Linked DNA regions of Homo sapiens: all the other regions are linked to region 2. The links come from fine-mapping of genetic effects on gene expression. A gene starts in region 2. Each other region holds a variant in brackets. All regions are shown on one strand. Distances are from middle to middle. Region 1 overlaps LOC105377109 (a long non-coding RNA gene). Region 2 holds the start of FAM107A (family with sequence similarity 107 member A). Region 3 overlaps FAM3D-AS1 (FAM3D antisense RNA 1).

The links. PIP is the estimated chance that this variant, and not a neighbour inherited with it, causes the effect.
Region 1: its variant is fine-mapped to the expression of FAM107A in visceral fat (GTEx, PIP 0.99).
Region 3: its variant is fine-mapped to the expression of FAM107A in testis (GTEx, PIP above 0.99).

Annotation. Positions count from the first base shown.
Region 1 is chr3:58,671,665-58,681,624 of GRCh38, reverse strand. All of the region lies in intron 2 of LOC105377109 (a long non-coding RNA gene), which reads right to left. Among named protein-coding and RNA genes, the nearest start is that of FAM3D, 9.9 kb to the right of the region's middle. The variant G/C (reference allele first, on the strand shown) is at 4,083.
Region 2 is chr3:58,574,425-58,584,384 of GRCh38, reverse strand. It overlaps FAM107A (family with sequence similarity 107 member A), which reads left to right and starts at 6,994. Exons shown (of 4, transcript NM_001076778.3): 1 at 6,994-7,076. LOC107984079 (a long non-coding RNA gene) reads right to left here. Exons shown (of 3, transcript XR_001740724.2): 3 at 4,210-4,761.
Region 3 is chr3:58,623,591-58,633,550 of GRCh38, reverse strand. It overlaps FAM3D-AS1 (FAM3D antisense RNA 1), which reads right to left. Exons shown (of 4, transcript NR_134853.1): 3 at 891-1,012. It also overlaps a transcript of FAM107A not described here. Among named protein-coding and RNA genes, the nearest start is that of FAM3D-AS1, 21 kb to the right of the region's middle. RefSeq lists an enhancer at 4,192-4,693. The variant C/T (reference allele first, on the strand shown) is at 5,083.

The DNA.
Region 1 (9,960 bases), 97 kb before region 2:
TCGCTCACACTGAAAGGGTCTGAATGGGGTGATTTCTGACCTGGGTTCTGCTCTCAATGATGTTAGGAGGATGTGGTGAGACACTGGTCCTCGACATCACCCTGTCCCTGGTCTGGTCACCCAGCCCCACGCTGGGCCTCCTTGGATTTGAATGAGGAAGGAGGCATTTGGAGAACAGTATCAGTCACAGTGTTCCCTTTGCTGCTCCATGTCTGAGTCCTGGTTCCAGCACCCTCCACAGCCCTAGAGATGTGGGCCCCACCCCTGAGGCAGCAAGCCCTCCCTCAGCGTCAGGACCTCTTGCAAAGGAGGAGGGCAGTGAAGTCAAGGAGAGCACAGGGAAAGACAGCGGCTAAAAGGGCGGAAGCAGTCCCTGCTGAGCCAGGCTTCCTGCTGCACACTGGATCTGCATCTTCTCATTTCATCCTCACAACAACCCGATGGGGCATCTCTCTTAACAGCCTCATTTTACAGAGGACATCGGGGCTCAGAAAAACAAAATGACTTGCCCAAGCAAGCTCACACTGCTGCTCAGTGTAGGAGCCGGGATTTGAACACAGGCAACCAGACCACATGCATGCTAAAGTGATGGGTGAGGCCGGCTTCCTCCCAGGCATCTTAGTGATGATGAAATGTGAGCATGACAGGGAAGCATGAAGAAAAAAAGAGCCTCACCCATAGCTATGATCATGATGGAGATGACAATGAAGATGAGATGATAATGATGACGATGATCTATGAGAATCAGAAATAAAATCCTTTCATTTCATTTGATTTTCAGATTTCTTTAGGGATGGACTGATTACTCCAACTAGCAGGAAACACATTTTTCATTCTTTTCACACATTTTTATTGAGCTCCTACTATATTTTAGGCATGGGAGACAAAGCCAAAAAAAAAAGCAAGACAGGCAAAAGGAAACAAATGGCAGCATCCCTCTGATGGTGTCCACCCCAGATTGTACCAGGAAGTGGGTCTCCTCTTGCTTTTCCTCATATCCACAGACCCCAGCCTGCTTTCTGGCCCAGAGAAGGTATTCATTAAGCATTTGTCGATGAACAGCTGGACCGAGGAATGCCATAAGGCTTGGTTATACCAGAGCAGCGGCCTTCCCTGCCCCACTCCAAAGCTGCCTGTGCACAACCTGCAAAAGGAAATTCCCAGGGGTCCTTTTGGTCCCCAGATGTGCTCAATGTCTGCGTTCTCTGAGCTGCTCCCACCCTCAGGCTGCCCCTGGGAGAAGACCCACCAGCCCACATGCCTGGCTGGCCCACCCACTCAGAGCCTGGCTCCTAGGAGGGAAATTCCAGGTCACCTACCTCAGTGGGGCCTCTGCCTCCCCTAAGTCACTGGAGAAGCCAGGACAAGAGGGCAAATTCCAGCCAGCCCAGCTGCCTGGAAGCCAGGGAGGGTGAGTACTCCCTCTTTGAATAAAAGGACAACAGCTGTAAACCCCAATAAAAAAAGCTATGAGGTGTCCATAAAGGCTTCCTTCCAGGATCTCTAAATCCCTGCCCCACCCAGACACTTCCTTAAACCTAGGAAGGCAGTGATGACACAGTAGGAGCTGCCTCTGGTTCACATCCTGAGGATTTCCCAGCGTTGTTAAACCTGTGCCCATGCCCGAGGAGGGTTTGCCCCTGGGAAGTTGGGCAAACACTCAGCCGAAAGGAAAGGCAGGTGGAGAAGCCACATAGAGTACTTATCCTGAACTTTATTATGATGATTCCAAAGTTACATCTGTTACCTGTAGAACAGAGAGAGTAGTATCAAGGAGAAAGTTAAAATCGCCAAAACACCTCCTCCAGGAAACAGCCATTTGGCAGTTTGCTGCATCTCTTGCAGTCTTTCGTCTCTATGTGGGTTTGTTTATTTACATTGTTTTCATCAGAACCATTCCCAGGATACTATTTTAAAATGCGTGACTATGTGGAAAGAAAAGGAGACATCCGATCCTATTTCCATAACATCACTAAGCCCCCACACCCCCATTTTTTGGCAGCCTTAAGAAGGATGAGAGAAACTCCGGAATTTATGGTTGGCACTGAAGTTAAATTATGGTAGATACTGAAGTTCTCACCACGCTGACAAGTGGAGGGTTGGAGTGAAATTTAACCTGATTTAGAAATATAAAGAAATATGATATTTCTTATACCCATGGCAGAGAGTAAAATTCATGCCAGCTGATGTATGGCTGCTTGGCTAGCAAGGAAAAAGGGAGAGAGAAACAGAGAAAAACAGAAAGGGAAAGACAAAGAACCAGAGAGAAGGACATATATATGCTTGTGAATGCATAGAAAATTCTAGAAAAATACTTAGAAATTATGAATAGTGGTTCATCTTCAAGAGTGAGTAAAGATGAGCATTTAAATAGATATTTCATATAGCTCTGCACTGTTCTGAATATTTTACCATAAACAAGTATTATTTTCATAATTCTTAAAACATTTGAAGTGATTTTCCCACTTCAAATATTATGAATAGGTTACATGGCAAAGGAGAATTAAGATTGCAGGTAAAATTAAGGTTGCTGATCAGCTCACCTTAAAATTGGGAGAATGGGGGGAACCTGGGCAAGACGGCTGAGTAGGAACAGCTCCAGTCTGCAGCTCCCAGCAAGATCAACACAGAAGGCGGGTGATTTCTGCATTTCCAACTGAGGTACCCGGCTTATCTCATTAGGACTGGTTACACAGTGGATGCAGCCCACAGAGGGTGAGCTGAAGCAGGGTAGGGTGTCACCTCACCCGGGAAGCACAAGGGATCAGGGAACTCCCTCCCCTAGCCAAGGGGAAGCCGTGAGGGACCGTGCCGTGAGGAACAGTGCATTCCGGCCCAGATACTACGCTTTTCCCATGGTCTTCAAAACCTGCAAACCAGGAGATTCCCTTGGATGCCCATGCCACCAGGGCCCTGGGTTTCAAGCAAAAAACTGGGCGGCCATTTGGGCAGACACTGAGCTAGATGCAGTTTTTTTATCCATACCCCAGTGGTGCCCAGAATGCCAGTGAGACATAACCATTCACTCCCCTGGAAAGGGGGATGAAGCCAGGGAGCCAAGTGGTCTACTCAGTGGATCCTACCCCCATGGAGGCCAGCAAGCTAAGATCCACTGGTTTGAAATTCTCGCTGCCAGCACAGCAGTCTGAAGTCGACCTGGGATGCTCGAGCTTGGTGGGGGGAAGGGCATCTGCCATTATTGAGACTTGAGTAGGCAGTTTTCCCCTCACAGTGTAAACAAAGGGGAAGTTCAAACTGGACGGAGCCCACCGCAGCTCAGCAAAGCTGCTGTAGCCAGACTTCCTGTCTAGATTCCTCCTCTCCAGGCATGGCATCTCTGAAAGAAAGGCAGCAGCCCCAGTCAGGGGCTTATAGATAAAACTCCCATCTCCCTGGGACAGAGCACCTGGGGGAAGGGGTGGCTGTGGGCACAGCTTCAGCAGACTTAAACGTTCCTGCCTGCCAGCTCTGAAGAGAGCAGCGGATCTCCCAGCACAGTGCTCGAGCTCTGCTAAGGGACAGACTGCCTCCTCAAGTGGGCCCCTGACCCCTGTGCCTCCTGACTGGGAGAAACCTCCCAGCAGGGGTCAACAGACACCTCATACAGGAGGGCTCCCGCTGGCATTTGGCAGGTGCCCCTCTGAGACACAGCTTCCAGAGGAAGGAACAGGCAGCAATCTTTACTGTTCTGCAGCCTCCACTGGTGATACCCAGGCAAACAGGGTCTGGAGTGGACCTCCAGCAAACTTCTGCAGACATGTAGCAGAAGGGCCGGACTGTTAAAAGGAAAACTAACAAACAGAAAGGAATAGCATCAACATCAACAAAAAGGACGTCCACACAAAAACCCCATCCAAAGGTCACGAACATTGAAGACCAAAGGTAGATAAATTCATGAAGATGAAGAAAAACCAGTGCAAAAGGCTGAAAATTCCAAAAACCAGAATGCCTCTTCTCCTCCAAAGGATCACAGCTCCTCTCCAGCAAGGAATCAAAACTGGAGGGAGAAGGAGTTTGACAAATTGACAGAAGTAGGCTTGAGAAGGTGGGTAATAACAAACTACTCCGAGCTAAAGGAGCAT[G/C]TTCTAACCCAATGCAAGGAAGCTAAGAACCTTGAAAAAAGGTTAGAGGAATGGCTAACTAGAATAACCAGTTTAGAGAAGAACATAATGACCTGATGGAGCTGAAAAACACAGCATGAGAACTTCGTCAGCATATGCAAGTATCAATAGCTGAATCGATCAAGCAGAAGAAAGGATATCAGAGATTGAAAATCATCTTAATGAAATAAAACGTGAAGACAAGATTAAAGAAAAAAGAATGAAAACGAACGAATAAAGCCTTCAAAAAATATGGGACTATGTGAAGAAAACAAACCTGATTGATTGGTGTACCTGAAAGTGACAGGGAGAATGGAACCAAGTTGGAAAACACTCTTCAGGATATTATCCAGGAGAACTTCCCCAACCTAGCAAGACAGGTCAACATTCAAATTCAGGAAACACAGAGAACACCACAAAGATACTCCTCGAGAAGAGCAACCCCAAGACACATAATCATCAGATTCACCAAGGTTGAAATGAAAGAAAAAATTATAAGGGCAGCCAGAGATAAAGGTCGGGTTACACACAAAGGGAAGCCCATCAGACTAACAGTGGATCTCTCTGCAGAAACCCTAAAAGCCAGAAGAGAGTGGGGGCCAATATTCAACATTTTTAAAGAAAAGAATTTTCAACCCAGAATTTCATATCCAGCCAAACTAAGCTTCATAAGCAAAGGAGAAATAAAATCCTTTACAGACAAGCAACTGCTGAGAGATTTTGTCACCACCAGGCCTGTTTTACAAGAGCTCCTGAAAGAAGCACTAAATATGGAAAAAAAAAAAAAAAACTGGTACCAGCCACTGCAAAAACATACCAAATTGTAAAGACCATCGACACTATGAAGTAGCTGCATAAACCAACAGGCAAAATAACCAGCTAGCATCATAACGACAGGATCAAATTCACACATAACAATATTAACCTTAAATAATAAGGGCTAAATGCCCCAATTAAAAGACACAGACTAGCAAATGGGATAAAGAGTCAAGACCCATCAGTGTGCTGTATTTAGGAGACCCATCTCACATGCAAAGACACACAGGCTCAAAATTAAAGGGTGGAGGAAGATTTACCAAGCAAATGGAAAGAAAAAAAAATTAGGCGTTGCAATCTTAGTCTCTGATAAAACAGACTTTAAACCACAAAGATCAAAAAAGACAAAGAAGGGCATTACATAATGGTAAAGGGATCAACGCAATAAAAAGAGCTAACTATCCCAAATATATATACACCCAATACAGGAGCAACCAGATTCATAAAGCAGGTTCTTAGAGACCTACAAAGAGACTTAGACTCCCACACAATAATAGTGGGAGACTTTAACACCCCACTGTCAATATTAGACAGATCAATAACACAGAAAATTAACAAGGATATTCAGGACTTGAACTCAGCTTTGGACAAAGCAGACCTAATAGACATCTACAGAACTTTCCATCCGAAATCAACAGAATATACATTCTTCTCGGCACCGCATTGCACTTATTCTAAAATTGACCACATAATTGGAAGTAAAACACTCCTCAGCAAATGCAAAAGAAGAGAAATCATAACAAACAGTCTCTCAGACCACAGTGCAATCAAATTAGAACTCAGGATTAAGAAACTCACTAAAAACCCCACAACTACATGGAAACTGAACAACCTGCTCCTGAATGACTACTGGGTAAATAACGAAATTAAGGCAGAAATGAGTAAGTTATTTGAAACCAATGAGAACAAAGGCAGAATATACCAGAATCTCTGGGACACAGCTAAAGCAGTGTTTAGGGGGAAATTTATAGCCTAAATGCCCAAAGGAGAAAGTTGGAAAGATCTAAAATCGACACCCTAACATCACAATTAAAAGAACTAGAGAAGCAAGGGCAAACAAATTCAAAAGCTAGCAGAAGATAAGAAATAACTAAGATCAGAGCAGAACTGAAGGGGATAGAGACACAAAAAAACCTTCAAAAAATCAATGAATCCTGGAGCTGGTTTTTTTTTTTAAAGATTAACAAAATAGATAGACTGCTAGCCAGACTAATAAAGAAGAAAAGAGAGAAGGATCAGATAGACACAATAAAAAATGATAAAGGGGGTATCACAACTGATCCCACAAAAATACAAACTACCATCAGAGAATACTATAAACACCTCTATGCAAATAAACTAGAAAATCTAGAAGAAATGAATAAATTCCTGGACACATACACCCTCCCAACACTAAACCAGGAAGAAGTCAAATCCCTGAATAGAGCAATAGCAAGTTCTGAAATTGAGGAGGTGAAGGACCTCTTCAAGGAGAACTACAAACCACTACTCAAGAAAATAATAGAGGACACAAGCAAATGGAAAAACATTCCATGCTCATGAATAGAAAGAATCAATATCATGCAAATGGCCATACTGTCCAAAGTAATTTATAGATTCAATACTATCCCCATCAAGCTACCATTGACTTTCTTCACAGAATTAGAAAAAACTACTTTAAATTTCATATGGAACCAAAAAAGAGCCTGTATAGCCAAGACAATCCTAAGCAAAAAGAACAAAGTCTAGAGGCATCACGCTACCTGACTTCAATTTATGCTACAAGGGTACAGTAACCAAAACAGCATGGTACTGGTACCAAAACAGATATATAGACCAATGGAACAGAACAGAGGCCTCAGAAATAATGCCACACGTCTACAACCATCTGACCTTTGACAAACCTTACAAAAACAAGCAATGGGGAAAGGATTCCCTATTTAATAAATGGTGTTGGGAAAACTGGATAGCCATATGCAGAAAACTGAAACTGGACCCCTTCCTTACATCTTATACAAAAATTAACTCAAGATGGATTAAAGACTTAAACATAAGACCTAAAACCATAAAAACCCTAGATGATACCATTCAGGACATAGGCATAGGTAAAGACTTCATGACTAAAACACCAAAAGCAATTGCAACAATAGCAAAATTGACAAATGGGATCTAATTAAACTAAAGAGCTTCTGCACAGCAAAAGAAACTATCATCAGAGTGAACAGGCAACCTACAGAATGGGAGAAAATTTTTACAATCTATCCATCTGACAAAGGGCTAACATCCAGAATCAACAAGGAACTTAAACAAATTTACAAGAAAAAAATAACCCCATCAAAAAGTGGGCAAAGGATATAAACAGACACTTCTCAAAAGAAGACATTTATGTGTCCAACAGACAGAATACAAAGCTCATCATCACTGGTCATTAGAGAAATGCAAATCAAAACCACAATGAGATACCATCTCATGCCAGTTAGAATGGCGATCACTAAAAAGTCAGGCAACAATAGATGCTGGAGAGGATGTGGAGAAACAGGAATGCTTTTACACTGTTGGTAGGAGTGTAAATTAGTTCAACTATTGTGGAGGACAGTGTGGCGATTCCTCAAGGATCTAGAACCAGAAATACCATTTGACCCAGCAATCCCATCACTGGGTATAACCCAAAGGATTACAAATTATTCTACTATAAAGACACATGCACACGTATGTTTATTGCAGCACTATTCACAATAGCAAAGACTTGGAACCAACCCAAATGCCCATCAATGATAGACTGGATAAAGAAAATGTGGCACATATACTACACAGCCATAAAAAGAGATGAGTTCATGTCCTTTACAGGGACATGGATGAAGCTGGAAACGATCATTCTCAGCAAACTAACACAGGAACAGAAAACCAAACACCGCATGTTCTCATTCATAAGTGGGAGTTGAACAATGAGAACACACGGACACAGGGAGGGAAACAACACACACCGGGCCCTGTCGGGGGATGAGGGGCTAGGGGAGGGATAGCATTAGGACAAATACCTAATGTAGATGATGGGTTGATGAGTGCAGCAAACCACCATGGCACATGTATACCTATGTAACAAATCTGCACATTCTGCACATGTATCCCAGAACTTAAAGTATGATTTAAAAAAAAAAATTGGGAGAATGTCCTGGATTATTGGGGGCCCCAATGTAGTCACAAAGCTCCTTTAAAGTGAAAGAAGAGCCAGGCATAAGGTTCACACCAGTAGTCCTAGGTACTCAGGAGGCTGAGGCAGGAGGATTGCTTGAGTTCAAGAGTTCAAGACCAACCTGGGCAACATAGCAAGACCCCATCTCTAAAAATAAAAATAAGGTGAAAGAGGGAGGGAGGCAAAAGGATGAGCGTCAGGGAGATGGTACAATGGAAGAAGGGCCATAAAGATGCAACCTCACTGGCTTCGAAGATGGGGAAGGAGCCATGAGCCAAGGAGAGTGGGTGGCCTCTAGATACTAGAAGAAGCAAGGAAATGAGCTTTCCCAGGAGCCCCCAGAAAGGAATGTAGCCCTGTGACACCTTGGTTTTAGCTCAGTGAGACCCATCAGACTGGGACCTGACTCAGCCACCCTACACCTCTGCCCACCCACAGTTGGAGACAGACTGTGGACAGAGTGGCTGGTGACCAGTGAGCAAGGCCTCTGAGTGCAGGAGCACCTGTGCCCACCGCCCACTCCAGTCCTCAGCACCGATGGAAAGGCTTCTATTTCATGGCTTGTTATTGCTGTTGTTCAAAGGAACGGCAGTAGCATTAAAGAAATGAATGGAAGAATGAATTATTAATGGTTGCAAGGGAAATTTGTAACTCAGTATGCTATCCTCAACTTCGTCTCTTACACCAAGGCACTGACTTTATTACAAAGCCAATCAGGCCATGAGGCACACGTGGCCACATTGGATGTGGTCAATTACCGAGGTGAGGGAAACTAAATTGTTGGTAGTTTCTTGCTGAAGCACTTGGCGCAGTCATGCTCTGTGACTTTCTCCCTTGGCTTCAGAGCGCACCTGGCTTCCTTTTGTTATCAAGGCTTGTGGCTGCTGTGAAAAATGCTGAAGGGAATGTAAATAAATTACTGCCTGGTCTAGTTTCTTCTCAAAGATTAGAACTAGAAAAATCGATGCAACGGTCATTTATCCCATCGGTGAGCCAACTCTTCTGTCTTTGGGCACCCAGAAGGTCAAATACAGCCTATACAGCCACTCACATCTGTGTACTCCTGTGCATTCACACGCATACACATGCACACACACCTGTCTCAGGGTACCCACACTTGGTACACACCCTCAGGCACACACACTCACATACACATACAGTGAGTCCGCTCTGCCATTTTGTCTCAGACGTGCCGGGGGTGGGTTTTTCTCCTCTGGGCTTTTCCCTTTGAATGAAGCATTCTCATACCCCAGCTCTGGGGAAATAATCTTCAGATTAGTTTGTCTGCCTGCCAGGAACACCAGACTGTGCTCAGTAAAGAACAGTACATCATTTCAGGAAATGCTGGGGGTCTTGGGTGCTCTGAAGCCCCAGGGAATCCACTATTGCAGTGCTCTGGGGCCCTCATCGCTGATGCCTGCAGCTGTCAGGGAAAGGGTGTATGTGTGTCCCTCCTCAACTTCCCACTTGAAAGCTGGGTCTCCACGAGCAAATTGCTTAACTGCTCTGGGCCTCAGTTTCCCCATTTGTAGGTTCTAGGTAATAATAGTACTCCCCCTCGATGTGGTAGTTAGAACGAATTCAGATCATGAATGTGTCTTGTTTAATAGAGTGCCCAGCAGGTGCTCTATAAATGTTGAATGCTGTGGTGGCTGTTATTCCTAGTTCCACCCTCATCTATCTCCCAACTGTTGAGGAACACACACACACACACACACACACACACACACACACACACACACTCCTATCTTAAACAGGTAGTGCTCAAAATCTGGCCTTGCATTTGGGTGGCTCTTTTCTCCATGGTTTTCAAAGCACCTTGATATCTGTTTCCTCCTTTAAGCCTCATAAAACCTTGTGGAGTGGGAAGAC
Region 2 (9,960 bases):
TGTACATCTGCCATCTCATCAACTCCCTTCATTCATTTATTCATCCAGCTAATATTTATTGGCCTCTGTTTTCCAAGGTGCAGGGATGTATTTATAAATAAAACAGATCTGCCCCTCCTCTCAGGGAGCAGAGTAATGGAAACCCCTATTGGAAACATGAGGAAACCGAGGCTCAGATGGTAACATGACTTGTCTAAGGTCATACAACTCATCGAGAGTGAAGCTGAGATTCCAACCAGGACCGTGTGCCTCTGGACCCGCTCTCTGGCTGCTCCACACAGGGAGCGGCAGGAAGTGAGAATGGGAGTAAGGAGCCAATTTGGCCATGTGCTGAAGGGGTGAGCACTCCTTTCGTTGAGAAGCCCCCAAGGAGGACATTACAGATTCAGACCCAAAATAGAGGCTCTTTTCATTAACAGTAGCCTCAAGTCATGCAGCAGATAATATAACACTGGGTGACTCATGCCTTGAGGCCGGGAGTTCAAGACCAGCCTGGGCAAAATAGTGAGATCTCGTCTCTAGAAAAATGTTTAAAAATTAGCCCAGCATGGTGGTGCATGCCTGTGGTCCTAGCTACTCAGGAGGCTGAGGTGGGAGGATCACTTGAGCCCAGAGAGTTGAGGCTGCCATGAGCTGTGTTTGCTCCACTGCCCTCCAGCCTGAGCAACAGAGCAAGACCGTGTCCCCCCCCAAAAAAAAAGAAAAGAAAAAGAAAAAGAAAAACGTTTATCCCAAGGTATTTCAAAATAATTTTTTTTTTTTTTGACAGAGTTTTGCTCTTGTTGCCCAGGGTGGAGTGCAATGGCGGGATCTCAGCTCACTGCAACCTCTGGCTCCCGAGTTCAAGCAACTCTCCTGCCTCAGCCTCCTGAGTAGCTGGAATTACAGGCTCCCGCCACCACGCCCGGCTAATTTTGTATTTTTAATAGAGACAGGGTTTCACCATGTTGGTCAGGCTGGTCTCGAACTCCTGACCTGAGGTCATCCACCCGCCTTGGCCTCCCAAAGTGCTGGGATTACAGGCATGAGCCACCGCACCCGGCTAAAATAATTTCTTAATATTAGAGTAAGACATGCTCACCATAGATATTTCGAGAAATTGAGACTAAAGAGGAGGAGGCCTAACACATAATCCCACTAACCACGGGCGGCCACACATAACATTTGGAAATGCCTCCTTCCAAACCTTGCTATGCATAGTGTGTGTGTGTTTTACACTGTTGAGACTGTTCTGACTCTAGTCTTTAATTCCACTTTTTTCAGTTGGATGAAAATCTTGAATGCTCGGCCGGGCACAGTGGCTCACGCCTGTAATCCCAACGCTCTGCGAGGCCAAGGCAGGTGGATCACTTGAGGTCAGGTGTTCGAGACCAGCCTGGCCAACATAGTGAAACCCCATCTCTACCAAAAATACAAAAATTAGCTAGGCGTGATGGCAGGTGCCTGTAATGCCAGCTACTCGGGAGGCTGAGGTGGGAGAATCACTTGAACCCGGGAGGCAGAGGTCGCAGTGAGCCGAAATCGTGCCACTGCCCTCCAGCCTGGCAACAGAGCAAGACTCTGTCTCAAACAAACAAACAAACAAACTTGAATGCTCTTAAGTGAGTTATCAAAATAATAGTTGCCACTTACAGAGCCCTGACTCCATGGCAGCCACGGTGTGAAGGGCTCTCCAGAACATATCTCCTTTGTTCCTCAAAAACACGTCTGCCCCATTTTAGGGAGGAGGAAACAGAGAGTTGAAGGTCACCCAGTTGTCCAGCAATGGAGTCAGGATTGTGGTCCGGGTTGGCACCAGAGTCCATGCTCTCAATCACAGGGCTAGAAGGGTCACCTCTGTGGAATAACTCCTGTTTGGCCATGCCTGGGAGGCAATACAGTCCAGTAGTTCAAGTCCACTTGAGGGGCGTTAACCTGCATCCTACCTGGAGCTCAGGTCATGTTCCTGGAAGGGAGGAAAGCATCTCTCTGCACTATGGACAAAAAGGCACCTCCCCAGGTGCCTGCGGGCATCAGCAACTATACTTCTTCTCCGCAGCCAGAGGGGCAGACGCAGCCTCCACCCCTGCCTCTGCCAGGTAGGGCTGCCAGATAAAATACAGGGCACTCAGTTCCATCTGAATTTCAGAGAAACAACAAATCATATTTTAGTGTAAGCATGTTCCAGCTATGTCATGGACTATACTAAAAAGTTATTTGGTGCTCATTAGAAATTCAAATTTAACTTCGATGTGTGACATTTTTATTTGGTACATCTAGCAACTATGCTGCCAGGAATCATGAAGTTTGCTCAGTTTGACAGCTGTGGTCTGCCCAGGTTCTCCTGCATGCATGCGCGCACACATACACACACACACAGAGAAACAGACACACACACGCACACACACACATGCTCCCTCTCACATCCTCTCACCATCCATAGATTCACTCACTGTGCTTCTTGTCTGATTACAAGGGAATTAAAATGTACTGGGGATGGGGGTACCCCAGGGTCCTTCTGCAGCTAAGAGACCAAATTAACCATGTCTAATTGCAGCTGGGTGGAGAGCCAGCTTTCAGAAACAAGACTCTAAGTTCTTCCCCACCCCCTCTCACTTTCCCATTTTCACGCTTGAAATCCCTCAACTGGGTAAATTCTTCCCGGTTCAAACTTGTTGTAAAGGCGACTCTCATTCCTTTTATAATCTCTCCACAGATCCCATGACAGGTTCTTTCTGCCAGCACAGCTTCTTCTCCCCCAACCCCCGAGTCCTTTCTGCAGAGCATGTTTGAGAGGCGGGGGGCACGGTTTAATCCTAGGGCTGTTTTGTGGGTGGCTGCTCAGAAACCCCATTGAGGCCTTGAAAAGGGGCCTTGGAGATTTAGACTGAATACAGGGCTGAGGAGGAAGTTTTAAGTTGCCATGGAAACTTCTTGTTTGATGTTCGTGGGCCCAGATAAGCTGTTCTAGGCGCCCATGGGCTTGGAGAAAGGGGGCAAAAATGAAACAAAAGCTGTTTGGGGAGGTTATTTTCTGCACACTGCAGCCCAGCCCACTATAGATGCAGGAAAATTCTCCACCTCCCTGTCAGGACTGCCTCCCCTGGTCTTCCCTGTCCCCCTTCCTTTGGGTTCCTCTGGTTCCCAAGAAATCAGAGTTAAAAGGGGATGGGAGGGAAGACAGGAGGGGTGTGCCCAGCCCCTGGGCTTCCCCCTTTGATGCCCCAGCTCACCAGGGGGCCGAGCAAGTATGCAGATCCCCAGGCCCCTGGCTTCCCAGAGTCCTTCCTTTTGGAAGAATAGGAAGACCTCCAGGGAAAGCCACACAGAAGGAGGCAGGAGACAGCGACTGTGGCTTGAATTATGCAATTACCTGGAGTAAACGCCTCAAAGGCTTGTTTGTTCAGAGGGCCTCTGTTTTCCCATATTCTGATGACATAACTGAGCCAGATGTGATTCCTAACTAACTACAGTTGTTTGGGAAATGTTGCTCTTTCTCACATTTTTAATTCTTAGAGTCTTTTTCTGATAACAAAAGTAATATATGCTAGGGCCTTTTTTTTTCTTTTAACACCGCAAACATCACAGAAATGCAGTGACAAAGGAGAAGGGCCTGTAATTTTACGCTGTAGAACAATGGTCCTCAAACTCTTTAATATAAATGAGCCCCCAGAGAGGTATGTTTAAAATCCAGATTCCATGGTGGCTTCATTCCTGTGATCCTAGCACTTTGGGAGGCTGAAGCAGGAGGAACACTTGAGGCCAAGAGTTCAAGACCAGCCTGGGCAACACAGTGAGATCTCATTTCTAAAAAAAATAAAAAATTAGCTGGGTGTGGTGGCATGTGTCTGTAGTCTCAGCTACTTGGGAGACTGAGGTGGGAGGCTCGCTTGATCCCAGGAGGTCAAGGCTGCAGTGAGCCATTATGGCACCACTGCATTCAGCCTAGGTAACAGAGTAATGCTCTGTCTCAAAAAAAAAAAAAAAAAAAAAATCCAGATTCCTAGGTTCCTCCCTAGGAAAAAAAAAAAGCAAGAGCATTTTTAGCACTCATTTCAAATGACATCTAGTAATAGTATTTGAGATACACTGATCTAGAGTTGACCTCTGCTAACAGATTAGTGTATTTGCCTCCACACTAGTTCTTTATACATATACCAACTTTTTTATCTTGAAAAAAAAAAGAGATCCTACTACATATGATTTTTCATTGAATATGTAGAAGACATCTTTTTCAGGTCAATACATAGACATGTTTATTGGCTGCATCTCGTCTTGGGGTGTAGCATAGTCTCTTGCTGATGGAGTGTGGCCTGGGAAAGGGTGGTGGTTGGCCGCTGATCTCACGTACAGTTGCACCTGCACATGGACACACAGCAAGATGGTGCTGTAACAAGCTCAGCGCTGTCAAGGTTTTCGGTGTCTTCAGGTTAACAATAGTTATTGAGCCCCTCAGTACTGGGACAGGAAGATAGGTAGGTACCTGCCCTGGGGCTAGCAGTCTGATGGGTTTGTATACAAGTTGGACTGTGAGAAGAGTTTTTGTGGGAGAAGCACAGTGACTCCCAACTGCCCACGGAAAATGACGCCCAACATCCGAGGACTACTGCCCAGTTCTCCTTGGCTGTCAGGTGCGTGTTCCTCTGAAGTGTACCAGGTGATGGGCTTCTGTCTTCTCCGGGGATGAGCAGGAGCTGTCAGAAGTTCCCCCGCTCCAGGATCCTTCTTACTCTCCAACTGTTAGAAGGCACTGGGATTGGTTCATCTGAGCCACCAAAGACCCTAGGAAATATTCAAAATACTTCTTTGCAGAGCAGGAGGATGTGTGCAAGGAACCAGGGTCAGCAAAGAGTGGTTTGACAAGAATCTAGCTGTCCTCTTCTACCAGGAGAGTTTGGGGAAGTTAAGGCAGAGCAGGGTGGGAGGCTGAGGGGGCTACCATTCATAGTGCCTCAAGAAATGCAGAATTGGGGAAGAAGAAAAAAAGGGACCACACATTGTTTCCAGAAAATTGTTTTATACCCAAGAATTTAGGACCCTCTTAGTTTAAGTGGCTCGAGAATGGTCAGCGTGGCCAAGACTCCCTGGACATGCCTGCCCTGTCCCTCCCACTCCACCCCTGTCTCCCACCTCCCTCACTCCCAAGATGGCACCCAGCCTGCCTTTACATCACACCAGGATCCACCCAGTCTGGGCCTTTCCACTGGCTCTTCCCACCCTACGAAGACTCTCCCATGTGTACAGACTTCACACAACTGACTCCTTGTGATTCTGCTACCCTAAAACACCACCCGCTCTCACCTCACCCAGCCTTGCGTTCATCACGGCATTCCTCACTGCCTGACGTCATCCTGAATGTCCCCTTCTTTACTGTGTGTCCCCCTTGAAGGTAGGTTCCCTGACAGCAGGGATATTACCTGTGTCATTCACATGGTACCCCCAGCACTTAGAACAGTGCCAGGAACACAGTAGGAATTAAATAAATGTTTGTTAAATGAACAAATAATATAGGCCAAAGAAGACACAAGGTTGCCTTGTTAAAGCCTCCATTCACCTGTGATGCATGTCCTAGGCCTCATCACCTTCTAGCCAACCAAGACTCCATGAGAAAGTAAAGTTGGGGTGGAGGCCTGGTCTAACTGGTAGACCCCAGCTTCCTCACTGGGGAACTAGGATGACACTAAACGATAGAAAACACTTCCAGCTTTTCAAGTGAAAGCTGATTCTGAAATTAGGAGAATGCCTCCATTATCTATAAGCATCCAGGCTGGCCTTAAGGATCTACATACATTTTTTACTTTTCTTGGGTTTTTTTGTTTGTTTGTTTTTTGGGTTTTTTTGAGACAGTCTTGCTCTGTCACCCAGGCTGGAGTGCAGTGGCCCAATCTTGGCTCACTGCAAACTCTGCCTCCCAAGTTCAAGCAATTCTCCTGCCTCAGCCTCCCAGGTAGCTGGGATTACAGGTGTGTGCCACCACCCCTGGCTAATTTTTGTATTTTTAGTAGAGACAGGGTTTTACCATGTTGGCCAGGCTGTTCTCAAACTTCTGACCTCAAATGATCTGCCTACCTCAGCCTCCCAAAGTGCTGGGATTACAGGCATGAGCTACCATGCCTGGCCTACTTTTATATTTTACATTCACATGTTCATTCATTGAGCCACTACTTATGGAACACATATTCTGCCAGGCAAAATGCACCATGCTGGGCTCTGGCCTCAGATCACGTAGAGTCCAGGTCTCTCTTGGAGAAAAGTCCTATATGCTGAGCTTTGACTATGTGCTTCACTAATGTCATCTCATCCATGTCATCTCCCAACCACCCTGGTATGCTCCACATTTGACAAACACAGAAACCAAGACACAGAGACACTGAGTGGCTGCTGAAGGGGCTGGTGCTGGAGCCAGGGCCAACACATGAGCCTGCTGAGACCCAGACACGGTGCATCCCCTCTCCCACGCTCTTCCGTTGGCTCCTCTGTGAAGTTCCAATGACATTCAAGGTATCAGGAAAACGCTGTGTACGGAGTTTCTGACCCATTCGTGGATAATTAAGAACTGACCCAATGCTGAGCAGTTTCCCCTCCCTTTACACCCCACCCTTTTCCCCCCAGAGCCATTTTCTCCTGAAGAATCCACACCACTGCCTCAGGAAGCTTGGCTTCCCCTCCCATGGGGAAGTGCTGGAATCCACTCTTGCCTGACCCTCCCATAAGAAACAAGGGAAATTCCTTTACGTGAGCCGCCTTGCTCAGAACAAAGCTTGGCGTGTTTCTTATTCCTCATCAATCTGACAAAATGGGTATTTATTTGTGCCTCTCAAGCGTGTGGCTTGGACATGATGTTCCGCATCGTGGAAGTGGCCGTGCACCAAGTGGAATATCTGTTACTATAGTAACAGTTCCTTTTTATTGATACCAGAATAAACAGGAATGCAAAGGCTGTCTCACTTGTTGGCACATTTCAGCAGCCTCCGTTCCCAGGGGTTTAAGAACCGCCCTCTAGAGGCAGCCCTCCTTGCTAGTCTGGGACTTCCCGGTGGAGTGAGGAACCCAGCAACACGCTCCTGACTTCCCTTCCCAAGGACTCGACCTGAGAAGTAAGACCATCTCTGTTCTGTTTCATCTGCTGTTGAGAGCGGTGCCGTTCGGGAGGAGGTGGAAGGGAAGGAGGGCAGACCCGGTACACTGAAGTGGGCTGTCAGTGGACCTGAGTGCTTTGAGTTTAGGTACCCGGGCTATGTCCCAGCATCCATAAAATGATACGGGAGATGCCTCCAGGCACCCTGGGTTTCGGAAAAGGGTAGGAGACAAAGAAGCGAGCCCCCTGGCATAGCCCTGCATTCTTGTTGATCTTTTTCTGCTGCATCCTCAGGTGAATCTGAATTAATGCATGATATAGCCTCACCTAAGTCAATTATCACACAGTATGGGGGTTTAATTCTCAGCACAACAGACAGAACACAGATTTCAGCTTCAGAGTTTGGCTCAGATTCAAGCTCTTTCCTTCACCGGCTGTGTGATTTGGGGAAATCAGATGACTTCCCTGAACTTCAGTTTCCTTGACTGTAAAAAGAGGATAATAACAGTACCCACCTCTTCAGTCTGTCGTAAGAATTTCATATTTCATGAGATATGGCTGCTAGGTGCTTAGCACAGTGCATGGCACATAGTGCACGCAGGTTAACGTGTGAAGGGCCTGCCTTTCTGGTGAATTTGGCTTTAGGACTTTGCAATACAAGGCAAGTCTGAGATTGGGCCAGAAATCAAGAGCTGTAGGATTGGGTGTGTCACTTTTTGAAACTGCTACCAAACCCAAGTAGCTTTGAGCTTCAAGGCAGCCCCCACGCCTGCATCTCTGGGTGGCTTAGATCCTGAGTGGCCCTCTTAGTTCTGTTGGTGGTGAGTACCTGCTGGAATTTTCCCTGCAGAGGCATCTGCCAGGTAAAGTGGCTGACATCATGCCACTAATGAGCCAGCAGGGATTCCAGGTCTGCTGATGCTTGTTCCAGATCAACTGCACAATGCTGTCCACTAACCTTGCTAAGTATCCTCCATGTCTAGCCCTGGACTCTGCTATTTAATTGGTTCAAAATCCTAAATGTCCACCCAACATTCTCCTTCCGAGGTAGGAAGTTGCAACGGACCTGAGGCAAAATGTTCAGGAAGTCAGCCTTGAGTCATTGCATCCAAATGGACAAGCAGCTCTGCTGGGGGCTTCCGAGCATCGACCAGAAGCTGCTGGGAGATCTGGAGGTGGCTCCGAGATACACTGTTCTTTGGCTGCTGGCCAGTGAAATACAAATAGGCACTTTCCCCATGGAGAGGAAAAAAGCCAGAAGGGTCAGGAAATCCAGTGACCGTGCTTGTCACTTTTACTGAATGCCTGTTTTTCCTTTGCCAGTCGTTATTTTGAAAGCCTCTCTTCTCCTCTGCCCTGGCATCCCATTAAATGCTGAACCAAGAGGGTTCTGAATGTGTTCGGAACCCAGCAGCTTGAACAGTAATGAGGAAGTGGGGGCACAGGAGGGAAGGCCACCAGCTGGTCCTCTCCTAAACAGAGACCAGCCTGAGGCCAGACAGGCCCGTGGACTCTAGCTTAAGCCCAAAGCTGCTAGGGCCAGGCTGGGGCTCCCCAGTGAGAGTTTGCATTTCACGTAGGCTAGGAGTCCTCAAGTTAGCAGGCCTCCATGTTCTTATCTATAAAATGGGCTCACACAGCCTCTTCATTGGGGTTTCTTGACTATCTAGAGAGAGAAAAGGGACATAACCCTGCTTTGTCAACTAAAAGACATTTTGCACCTTGAAGACAGTGGAGAGGTAGAAAGAGCATTGAATTTGGCGTCCAAGGTCCTGGCTTTGCTGCTTACTCTCTGTGTATCGAGACAAGTAGCTTGGCCTCTCTGAGCCTTAGTTTTCTCATCTATAAAACAGGGTACCACTGGCTGCCTCCAAGGGTGATTTAGAGATCCAGATCAAATTCTAGTGGTGACCACAGGGTTTCTTCAGGACAGAAGTACCATAGTTTGTCTTCGGTGAGCATCACTCTGCCAGGCGCTGGGCTAAGCACATCATGCCATTGTATCACTTCACCCTCCAAACTGCTCCATGAATAGGCTGTTATCCTTGCTGTATAGAGGCTCAGAGAGGTTAAGCTACTTGCCCAAGGTAACACAGCTGGGAAGGATTGCCACCATGAATCAAACCCACTCTGTCTCCACTAAAACATCTGCTTTAACCATTGCTTTACTGGCTTATGTGTCATTTGTTACAACTGATGCCATCGAAGACAGAAACATGACTACCAGAACAGTGGAGAGGCAAGTGGAAGGGACACTGAGGCCTTAGACAGCCTGGGGTCCCATGGCTATTGTCAAGACGAACTGGGCCCCGAGACTCCATCAGTGCAGCTCTCCTTCTGTCTCTCCTTACTCTCTCCTGTGGCTGCAGGCACCAGTGTTTGGTTTCAAATCTGCCACCCTGCATTAGCCATGCATGCCCCAGTGGCCCGGTGCACTCTCCGTGGGAGCAGCAGTGATCTCTGCTGAGCCTTGCCTGGTGTGGGGCCAACATCCTGTGGAGCCTGTGGCAAGGAGCTCTGGGACCTCTTGGGTCACCAACAGAACCAGGGAGGAACCAAGCAAGGGGTTCCAAATCTTTCCTCAGACCCCTTATTATCCCCACCCCAGGAAAAACAACATCAGTCCCATAAACTGCATATTGAGAATTATTTGCCATCCTATAGTCATGCAAGACACTCAATAGCTGTCGCCTACTGGTGGCCTCCACCCCATGCCCAGCTCTTTAGCTCATCCAATCTTCACAGCATCACAATTCTACAGAGGAGCATCCCAGAGGTTAGAGACCATCCCAAGATCACACAGCTGCTAAGAACTGTGACCTTAATCAGATTTGCTCACAATAACCAGGCCAACTACAGTCAGCTGAGATCCTTCAGGACCGAAGCAAATAAGTTTGTGTTTT
Region 3 (9,960 bases), 49 kb before region 2:
GGACTCAAGGGCAGCCAGTATATTTGGGAGGTGATTGTGGGAAACACCAATAGAGAAGTAGGGAAGTGAGATGGCAAAGGGAAGGAGGGGAAGGCAGCCAGTGAAGGGTATGGTTTCAACCCAGCTACCCCTGTGGGGACTGGAGCTGACTCCCACCCGAAGCTCTAGGAATCGGGGTAGAACATGCACCTTGGAGATACTCCACCCGGGAGTGAGGGAGCTGGGGTATTTACACACCGACTCCCACTAGTGGTTTGTTGAGGGCTTCTGGTGTTGGGGATGATATGAATTCCTAGGTGCTTCTTGTCTGCCCTGCCTAGGGAAGAGTGGCCCTCTGTGGCTTCACAGCAAGCCCCCAGCCAAGAGATGGCAATGCCAGCTGCAATGGCAGGAGCACATTGAAATGGGAAGGCCCAAGGATACGGTGTCAAGACCTGCCTGAGGTTTCTGAGAAGGGCCCAGTTCCCAGGCTCTAGACTAAGTCTTGAAAGGAGGTCGTGGGGGCAGAAAGCATTGCTACTCAGCCTCCTGGAGCATGTGCTGGGGACACTACACCTCATGGAGAAGAAACCCTCTGCCCAAGCACAGATGCCCACCAGTGGTCTGAGACTCACAGCTCCCAAGTCCTGGGGCCAGGGAGCACTTCAAATGTGCCAAGATAGCCTGGGGTAGAGACAATAGTGTGTGTGAACCTTCCACCAGGGGCCACGGCAGGTGGGACACGGGCTACAATTGCAGTGATATCAAAATCAAGGTCCAGGCCAGGTGCGGTGGCTCACGCCTATAACCCCAGCACTTTGGGAGGCCGAGGTGGGCGGATCAACTGAGGCAAGGAGTTTAAGACCAGCCTGGCCGACATATAAAAGTTAGCCAGGTATGGTGGCACTGACCTGTAATCCCAGCTACTTGGGAGGCTGAGGCAGGAGAATCGCTTGAACCTGGGAGGCGGGGATTGCAGTGAGCCGAGATTGCACCACTGCACTCCAGCCTGGGTGACAGAGCGAGACTCCATCTAAAAAAAAAAAAAAAAAATTCAAAGAGCCGGCGGGGAGCCGTGCTCAGGGTTGGCTGAGGAAGTCAGAAGGTGCCCATCCAGACATCCTGTCAATTCTGTCACTCCCTGCCCAACCCACCCCAGCTCACCCTCACGGATGAAAGCGGGAGCATGCTGGCAGGCCTGAATAACCACTTCCAACCACATCAGTAGACTACCTGGAAAAACATCTGCCCAGAAACCTGCTCTGGGAATGAAGGTGGCATGAAATTTTCATGATGACCATAAACACCTTTGAGAGCTCGGAAATTTCACTTTACAACAAGCAGGAGTACCTTGTAAAATTTTTAAAGAACATATAAAGACCTCTAAAATGAGCTCATGAGCAGGGACCAGGGCTAGGCAGAGGGCTCTTGGCAGTGGCCACTATTTTAAGACATGGGGTAGCTGCCTCATTGAAGAGAAGACACATGGACTTTTCCAGAAACTGCACTGCACAACACTTCAAAGAAGACTGAGAACATGTCAACTGGCTCAATCAGAGAATTCAGGGAAGCGTCCCAGGTGCCCTTTCCCAGATTTTGTTACTAATGGTCAGTCTGAACTCTTCTTTGGAGAATTGCCCTTGGGCTACTCATACATTCTTTGAGCACAAGTGCAAAGAAGACAGACCAGGAAGCTGGGGGTGTGTACACCACCCCAGGATGGTCCTTAGCTAATGACTGGCAGGTATGGGAACGTGAAAGGCCAGCTCTTTATTTTGGGGCATGATGACGACCACGAGGTGCAATTTACACTCCAGGATTCCCAGAGGGATCAGGCGGGAACTGGGACTTTGCCTGAAAGTGTCCCTTTGCTTACCTCTTTCCCCTTTCCCATCCTGCTCCTCCACTCCCTTACCAGTGTCCCCAGGGGCCAGTCCTTAACAAATCACCTACACGACAATCCCTATCCCGAAGTGGGATCCTGGGGTACCCATCCTAAGAGAGGTGGTGGGCATGGCCAGCTGGATGGGACTGAGCCTGAGCCTGGGCTGGGAGATAAGACCTCCAGGTCTGCAGGAATTGTTGTCATAAAAGGGATCAGTTCTCAAGGAGAAAGAGCTCAGAGTGGGGGAGCTGCACTTGCCACTGCCATGTGGAGCCCATGGAAGAGGCAACGTGCTGTTCCACACCAGGGAACACAAGGCAAAGATTAGGGATCATGCCCCACTCCAGCTTCCCACTCCTTCCTCAGATGCCCAGAATAAGTCAGAAGATAAGCCCAAGTAGCCATCATTGTACCCCCATAACCCATCAAGGAGACTGCATTCTCGAGCCAGCCACACTAGGCCCCTCTTGGGTGGGTGTTACAAAAGTGGCAAACACCTGTCAGACTCTCAACGTCATTTTCAGGACATTGTGGCCACTATAGGGACCCCCAGGTCAGCTCAAGCTGTAAAGAGTTGGGTCTTTATCGCCAAGATTTTCATCACTCAGCAAACCTGATATGCATCAAGAGTCCGGCAGGCTTGGGGATGCTGCAGTGAAGAAAACCCAGCACCGTTCCCACTCAGTCTAGCAGGGGATACAAATCCAGAGGCGACATGGCTTGGCAAGGGGAAAGACTGCAGGACCGCTGCCCCAGCCTTGGGGGATCCAGGAAGGCATCCTGGAGAAAGCAGCACCCATGCTGAGCCCTCAGGAGTGTGTAGGAGCTCACCAGGCAAAGAAGGGAGGGAAGGGCATGTCAGGCCAGGGAACAGCATGAACAAGGCCTGGAAGGGGCAGAGGATGGGTAACAGGGCTGAGTGGGAGGTCAGAGCCCGAGGGGCCTTGTGAGCTGGGCAGAGGGCTTGGACTTTGTCCCAGGGCAGGGGACACACTGGGAGATTTAAGCTGGGGGCAAGGTGACCAGAGCTGCATGTTTTGAAAATTCCTTGCTGCTGTGGGAAGGAGTGGAGGAAGGGAGGCCAGTGAGGAGGCTGCCATATCATCCAGGAATAGAGGGTGGTGGCCCGGACCAGGGGCCTGTCCCAGGGATCATCAGAAAGTGAAATGGATAAGACTTGGGACACATTTTCTCACTGGGGTCGACAAGCCTTCAGGAATCTCTGCAAGCTAATCGTGGCCTCAGAACTGGGGGCTTGGATTTGCCTCCCCACTCCCTGCCAATGTGCCTCCCACCCATCCCAGGAGTGAGGATGGGGCTGTGAGGGGTGGGGTCGTGGAGAGAGCTTTCCAGAAGCTGTAATTCTTGTCTTCACCAGTAGGTGGCGGCACAAGCTAGAAAGGGAAGGGTGGCAAGGTCTCCCCACACACCCAATTCGGGAAAGGCTGTTGCGCCTAATGAACTCATTATCTGGGACTTCCCAATGGGCACTGGACTTATCTTCGGCCTTGCTGATAGTGTAACAATTGCAGCACCTCACTTCTACAGAGAATTGCAGTTCTCCAGACGTTCTGCTCAGAGCTTTACATGAATTACCTCATTTCATCCTCATAGCCCCCTCGTCCACGGGGTGGGAACCATTGTCATCCTGTTTTACACAGAAGGAAGATGAGGCTCAGAGAGGTCAAGTGACTTGTCCAAAGTCACATAGATAAGGAGTCTCAGAATAAGGGCTGGAATTCCAGTCTGTCCCCAACATTACACGAAACAGATATGTTTGCCCTAAACCTACTCTCAGGTAAACAGAGTTTCTCCCATCCTCCTTCTCCTCCTCTCTTCCCCACTTCCCCTTTTTCTCCTCCCCCTCCTGCCCTGCTCCTGAATGCCTCTGAAGACTTTTGAAGATTGCACAGAACCTCAGAGTTAGCATTCTCAACACCTGCCTTCATTGCTTTGGAAGAGATGGAGAGGAACTGGGTTCAAGGGATTTAGAACTCCTCTTTTTAAAACCCAAAGCCCCCCTCACACTTCGTAAGCCTTACTTCCTTCTATAAGGTTGTGGGTCAAGAAGGAACACATGTTTACTCTCATGTTTTAGATGGAGAAAGAGAGTCTAAGGGATGTGCCCAGCCACAGAGTGAGACAGGGCAAAGATGGATCTAGAACACCTGCTCCTTGGTCCTCCACCACCAGCTGTCACCTCATAAATCATCTGTTCACGTATTCCAAGTACATCCTCTGCGCCAGGCATAGTGCTGGGCTCTGGGGCCTCCACCCCCATTCCTCCTGCCCATGCCATGTGGCCTGAATGTTGCATTTTGGGCCATCATCCTGCCAGGGCCTGGACTTCAGAGCCCAATCACAGGCTCTGTCAACCAGGCTTTCACTGCAGCACTAAGCCACATTTCGGCAGGGCTCCAAACAGATGGAAAACATTAATAAATGCGTAAGAATCATTTTCTTTCCTCCCACCCCACCAAGAGTCAAGCTGGTGGATAATTATGGGATGGTTGCCAAAGGAGTTTGATCTTCCGTGTTGACTTACAGCATTTTTACTGCTCCATCTGAAGGCCAATTTAGTCATTTCCCTTTACAATTTTGTGGACTCTCTCCTTTCTGCAGGAAATCCGAAACTGTAATCAGGCCACGACTGGAACAGGGAGAAAAGGAGTGGGGAGCAGCCGAGGAAGGCAGAGGCTGAACCCAAGGGAAGGGGCGGAAGGAAGAAGCTACATGTTTGCTTGGCTGGAAGGGTCATGGGTATCGGAGGAAATACAGTAACAATAACAACAGTATTAAGCAGTGCCATGAAGCGAGCACTTTCGATGAGTCAGGACTGTGTTAAGCACTCGACCTACTTAGACTATTTCATTTAATCCTCCATCATGGATTCTTCCACTAATATTGCTCTAGACTCGGGGTAAACTGAGGAGCAGGACAGACCAGGCCCTGGTCTTTGTGGAACTGCCATTCCAGAGGAATGGCAGAGGAGACGGACAATAAACACCGAAGTCATATCATTTCAGTTGCTGATGAGTGCTACAACAAAGTAATAAACAGAGAGCCTGGGAACTGCTTTGCACAAGGCAACAGAGAAAGCTTCTCTGAGGAGCCTGAAGGACAAAAAGGATAGAATCAGGCAAAGATCAAAATATGGGCAGTGGAGGGGAAGTGGGGGAGAGAACATTCCACGCAGAGAGAATAGCAAGTGCAAAGGC[C/T]CTGAGAAGGGGGGAAAGGTGCTGTGACCCAGAAACTACCAGGGAGAGGGAGGAGAGGGAAATGAGGTCCTAGCAAGACAGTCAATCAGACCTTGCAGACCATGGGGTGTTTGGTTCTGTTGGCAAGGCTGGATCTAGAATGCCTAATTCTTGACCCTCCACCAGCTGCCATTCCGTAAGTCATCTGTGTATGTGTTGCAGGCACCTACTGTGTGCCAGGCATCGTGCTAGAGGAAAGGAAAGGGTGGCAAGGTCTCCCCAACCCCCCCACCTCTTGGGAAACGGTGTTGTGCTTAGTGAACTGGTTATTCGGGACTTTCCACTGGGCAGTGGATATCATTTGTGTTATTAGCAGCATGATAGCAGTGGCACCTAACTTCTCTGAGGAATTGTTGTTCACCAGATGCTCTGCACATCCCCACAGCCCCATGCAGTGGGGGCAACTCTTACCCCACCTTTGGTGAAGTGACAGATAAAACAGAGCAACATGCTCTGATTTATGCTTTCGCAAAACGATGGCTTCAGCTGTACACACACACCTTACCCCATTTAGCTCTGCAGTATGAGTGCTTCACAAACACACACACACACACACACACACACACACACAACATCGTGCCCCCAAGGCCACACAACTATCAGGGACAGAGCTACAGTTCAAGCCCAAGGTCTCTTTAGCCTTAACCTCTGCCACAAGCTGGCATCACGGAGAAGGACAGGGCTGGCAAATGAGGAGGAGAGTGACTGCCGGGGGCACTTTGAGAACTTGGCCCCAGGCCTGGAATCTGGCCTTCAGATATTTTCTTGGCCTGGGCCCAGACCAGCAGCCCTCCAGCCCTTCCAGGCAGCCTGCTGCCCAGTTGAATGAAGGAGTCTGCTCTCAGAGTATCTGCTGTGGGAGAGCCCCGGACCCCAAGCATCTTCAAAGGTCTATTATTAATGGGGCTGTCCAGCTGAAGCTGACATCCGCACGCAGCCCTCCCAGAGCTCTGCACCTCAGCCAGCCCACGGCCTCCACCGTCTGGCCCTGTCGGCTGAGTGGTGCCCAGCAAGGTGAGAAGGCCAAGTCCTGCCCGCTGGGCCAGGCAGAGGTCACCCGCCGCGCCTGAGCTACCGGTGTGTGATGAGAGGACTGCCCCACGTCTTCCCTCATTTCCCAGCTGCCTCAGTTTCCCTTCCTGAGAGAGGCAGGGTTCTGGGAGGTGAGGAGCTGCAGGGACCCAAGAAGGGCATAGAAGCCGCCTGGGGACACTGGCCCCTCTGTCAGGATCAATCGCCCTAAGCCTGTCTGAGGCGCTCCGGGCTTAGGAGCAGCTGTGAAAGCCGCCTTTGTGCCTGGGAGAATGAGCCGCAAGAGGACAGGGGGCCCTCGCCCCGGGAGCCCCTTGGGTCCTGGCTCCTGAGATCAACGCCAGCAGGGAGGACCCCAGCCTGGCCCCTGCAGCCCACCCAGGCCTGGTGCCCACTTCGTGCCATGGGAGCAGCCCAGGGGAAGAAGGTAGGAACCTCTAAGTGTCCTGTTGGGGCCCTGGTCATGGGAAGGGAGACTGGACCTAGCAAGTGGGAGCCCCGACCCACCTACCCTGCAGCTTCAGCCGGCAGTGCCCACCAGCCCTCCCCCTGGAACTCACAGCCAAGACTTGCATCTAGAAAGCAGGCAAGGGCTCAGGGAAGAACCAGTGTCCTATCTCTCCATCTCTAGGACAGACTCGGGGGCAGCCAAATCTCTCTGGCTCCCTGGTCTTAACCACACACATCTCTACTTCCCTGAATAAAAGCTCCCTGGGTACCCCTTCCCCATACCCCAGGAGAGTGTCTGATGCAGGTGGATACAGGGGAAAGATCTTAAAATTATTATTATAAAGTTAGCTAACCAGCTGTTACCAGTTGTAGGGCAATAGGCAAGTTATTTAAGCTTTCTGTACCTTATTTCCTCACCTGTAAAATAGGGCCAATAATAATCACTACCTTGGAAAATCATTGTGAAAATTAAATGAGTGAAAGTGTTTGGAACACTGCCTGGCACTGTGTAGAGGCTTTGCTCCATTATTATTAGAATTCTATTCATGTTATTATCCCTCACCTTCTAAGCCTGAGCTCTCAGCTGGGGGTTTGTAGACAGCATTGCCTGAGAACTGTTTCTGGAAATGTGCTCTGCGGACCCCTGCGTCAGCATCCTGGGGTGGGGAGTAGGAGGGAGCTTGTGAAACAGTCACTTTCTCATGGCCCATCAGACCTCCTGGATCAGCCTCTTAGGGGCAAAGAGGGGCCTGCATTTACTCACCAGCTCTCGGGATTGTCCTACGTGCTCACTGCTCTCCAACCACAACGACCCGGTACTGCCATCCCAGTGGCATAGACAGGCTGCCGTGTCCCAGATCCACCACCCACCTACCGTGGCGATGACCTGAACCCCTCTGGACCTCAGGTTCTTGTTTATAAAGGGGGGCTGGTACCTGCTTCGTGGGAAGTTCAACAAGATGATGCCTGTGAAGTGCTCAGTGTGCTACCCCAAGCCCAGAGGCTCCCCGATAAACATGGGACTCTGATCCTCAGACAACCAGTGATGACCTGTTCCATCAAGGTTGAGAAACTCAAGGAAGAAGTAATTTCTTAGCCAGGGTCATGCAGCTAGTGGGGGAAAGAGCAGGGTACTGCTATTGTTGTTAATTTGGAAAGAGGAGCTTTATTTCTCATAAAGGGTTGCAGCCTGCAGGGTGGCCATTCCGAGAGGCTGGGAAGCATGGCCTCTGGCCAGAATCCAGAAACTGACACTTTGAGGAAGAGGCAAAGGGAGTAGAAATTTATGCTGAGCAGCATGGCCAAATATACATATTCAATAAGCTGTGGGAGGGGTCATGAATATTTATGAAAGGAGAAACATCTACATGCACAGTTGAGCTTCATGCCTCTTACAGGCCCCAGGTACAAAAAAATGTTGGCCTTAGTGTGATCTGAGGGTGGAGTTTTCAGCCCTCTGATGTCAAAGGTGAAGCAGGGAGCACGAAAACCCTCACTGTGCATCCTCTGCAGACTGGCTAGAACCGCTCCATGATTGGTGATCTCTTATCAAGAAAGAATGCTGGTTGGTTTTTGTGTTAAAACCACAAAAGGGAGGGGCAGTTGGTTGAAATCAGCATGGAGTCTTTTGAAAAGGCCTGTTTCTGTTTAGCTCTTAGGGAATTAGGATAACGGAGGTTATCAAGGGATGGCACACTACGGGGCACGTGCGACCTCCCATCCCGTCATGGCCAGAAACCCGGTTTTCAAGATTTCTCTGGGGTCTCCTTGGCCAAGAGGGGGTCCGTTCAGTCACTTGCCAGAGTGGAGGGGTGGGGTTTGTTTAAAGTTTTATTTTTATTTCTCATTTTTATTGGGTAGGATTTTGACCCCATTCTGCTTGACTCCAAACAACCCAGCCCATCCCACCCTTCCTGGTCCATAGCTCTGTCCACAGCATCTTCCTCAGCCCCACCCCAACCTCCCACAGAAGGCTGTTGATCAGGCAGGCACCTGCTGCCCTATGCCAGGGCCTATGTGGAGCTGGAGCCAAGGGTGAGGAGACACAGCCCCTGCCCTTGAGGCCGTCCCTGTCAGTTGCAGAGACTAATAGGCAGGCAAAAAATAGTTGGTAGTATGTGTGAAAGTTGAAGCAGAGGTGACTGGGCACATGACCCCTGGGCCAGGAGTCAAAACACAGCGTTGTTGCTTCTATTCCTCTTAGGCAAGGTCTGGACTTTGCTTTTAGGTGAACTCACCTTTGTCCCCTGGGGAATGTCAGGGGCATAGGCTTTGCCTAGAATCCTAAACCCACACTGGCAGGGGATGGAAGGGATCACGTGGTTGGTTAAGGCCAACCAGAGCCCACCCTTGGAGCCACAGATCTGTCTCCCAATGGCATGGCTGTTACTCAATGGAAGGGAGAGTGCTGGACATTTCATTGTAATGGCCCCCCAGGAGGAGAGACAGCGTTCTCTCCAGCTGTGGGGTGGGCAGAGAGAATGGAAGAACACTGAAAGGGTCGAGGGTGTGACAGATAGACCACTGGGCCAGGAGTCAAAACACAGACATTGTTGTTTCTGTTCTTCTTAGGCAGGGCCTGAACTTCCCTTGGACTTGGCATTTTTTTAAATCTGCCCCTATCAAGGGCACCAAGGTGGGTACCCTGGCCTCTATCAGGGTTTTTGCAAGAAGATATTTTAACACACAGAAGCAATCCCTCTAACACTGTTTGGAACATTCCAGAAACTTCAACATTTGACCCACTGGGCATGCATTGATGCCAGAGAGGTGAGTTCAACCCAGATGTCTGGATGGGAGCCACGTTTTAAGCCCTTGCATTACACAGCAAGGCCACAGGTCCTGCGGCAGCAGTGGGTTCAAGAAAAGCACCTTCCATGGGCCTCAGACACCAGCCAGTTCATAGACACCAACAGAGTGTGGGCACGCCGTCCTCCACCCCAATCAGCAGTGGCCAGTGCCCTCGCCCAGGATAGAGGACACAACCACAAGCTTCCAGAGGCTGCCCTGCACAAGTCCAGCTCCCCAGGCTGTGACCGTAATGCCACCCTTAAAGGGGCTGCTAAATGGAAAATGTTCCTGAGCACAGCTCGCATGCACTGCCGCTTCTGCACCAATTCGCTCATTTAGTCTTCAAACAGCTCTTGGACATGGAGAGTTTTATCACCCAGAAATCCAGAGACGTGGAGAGGTTAAGCAAGAGGCTCAGGGTCACCCAGCTAGTAAGGGTGGAGTTAACATTTGACCCAGGCTGCCCTAAGAGCCTGGCCTCTCAAACAGCAAACCCCACTGCCGGCGCTTCTGAAGGTGGAAACACAACAGTGCTCACATCCCACCTGGAGCCCCTGTCGGGGCATC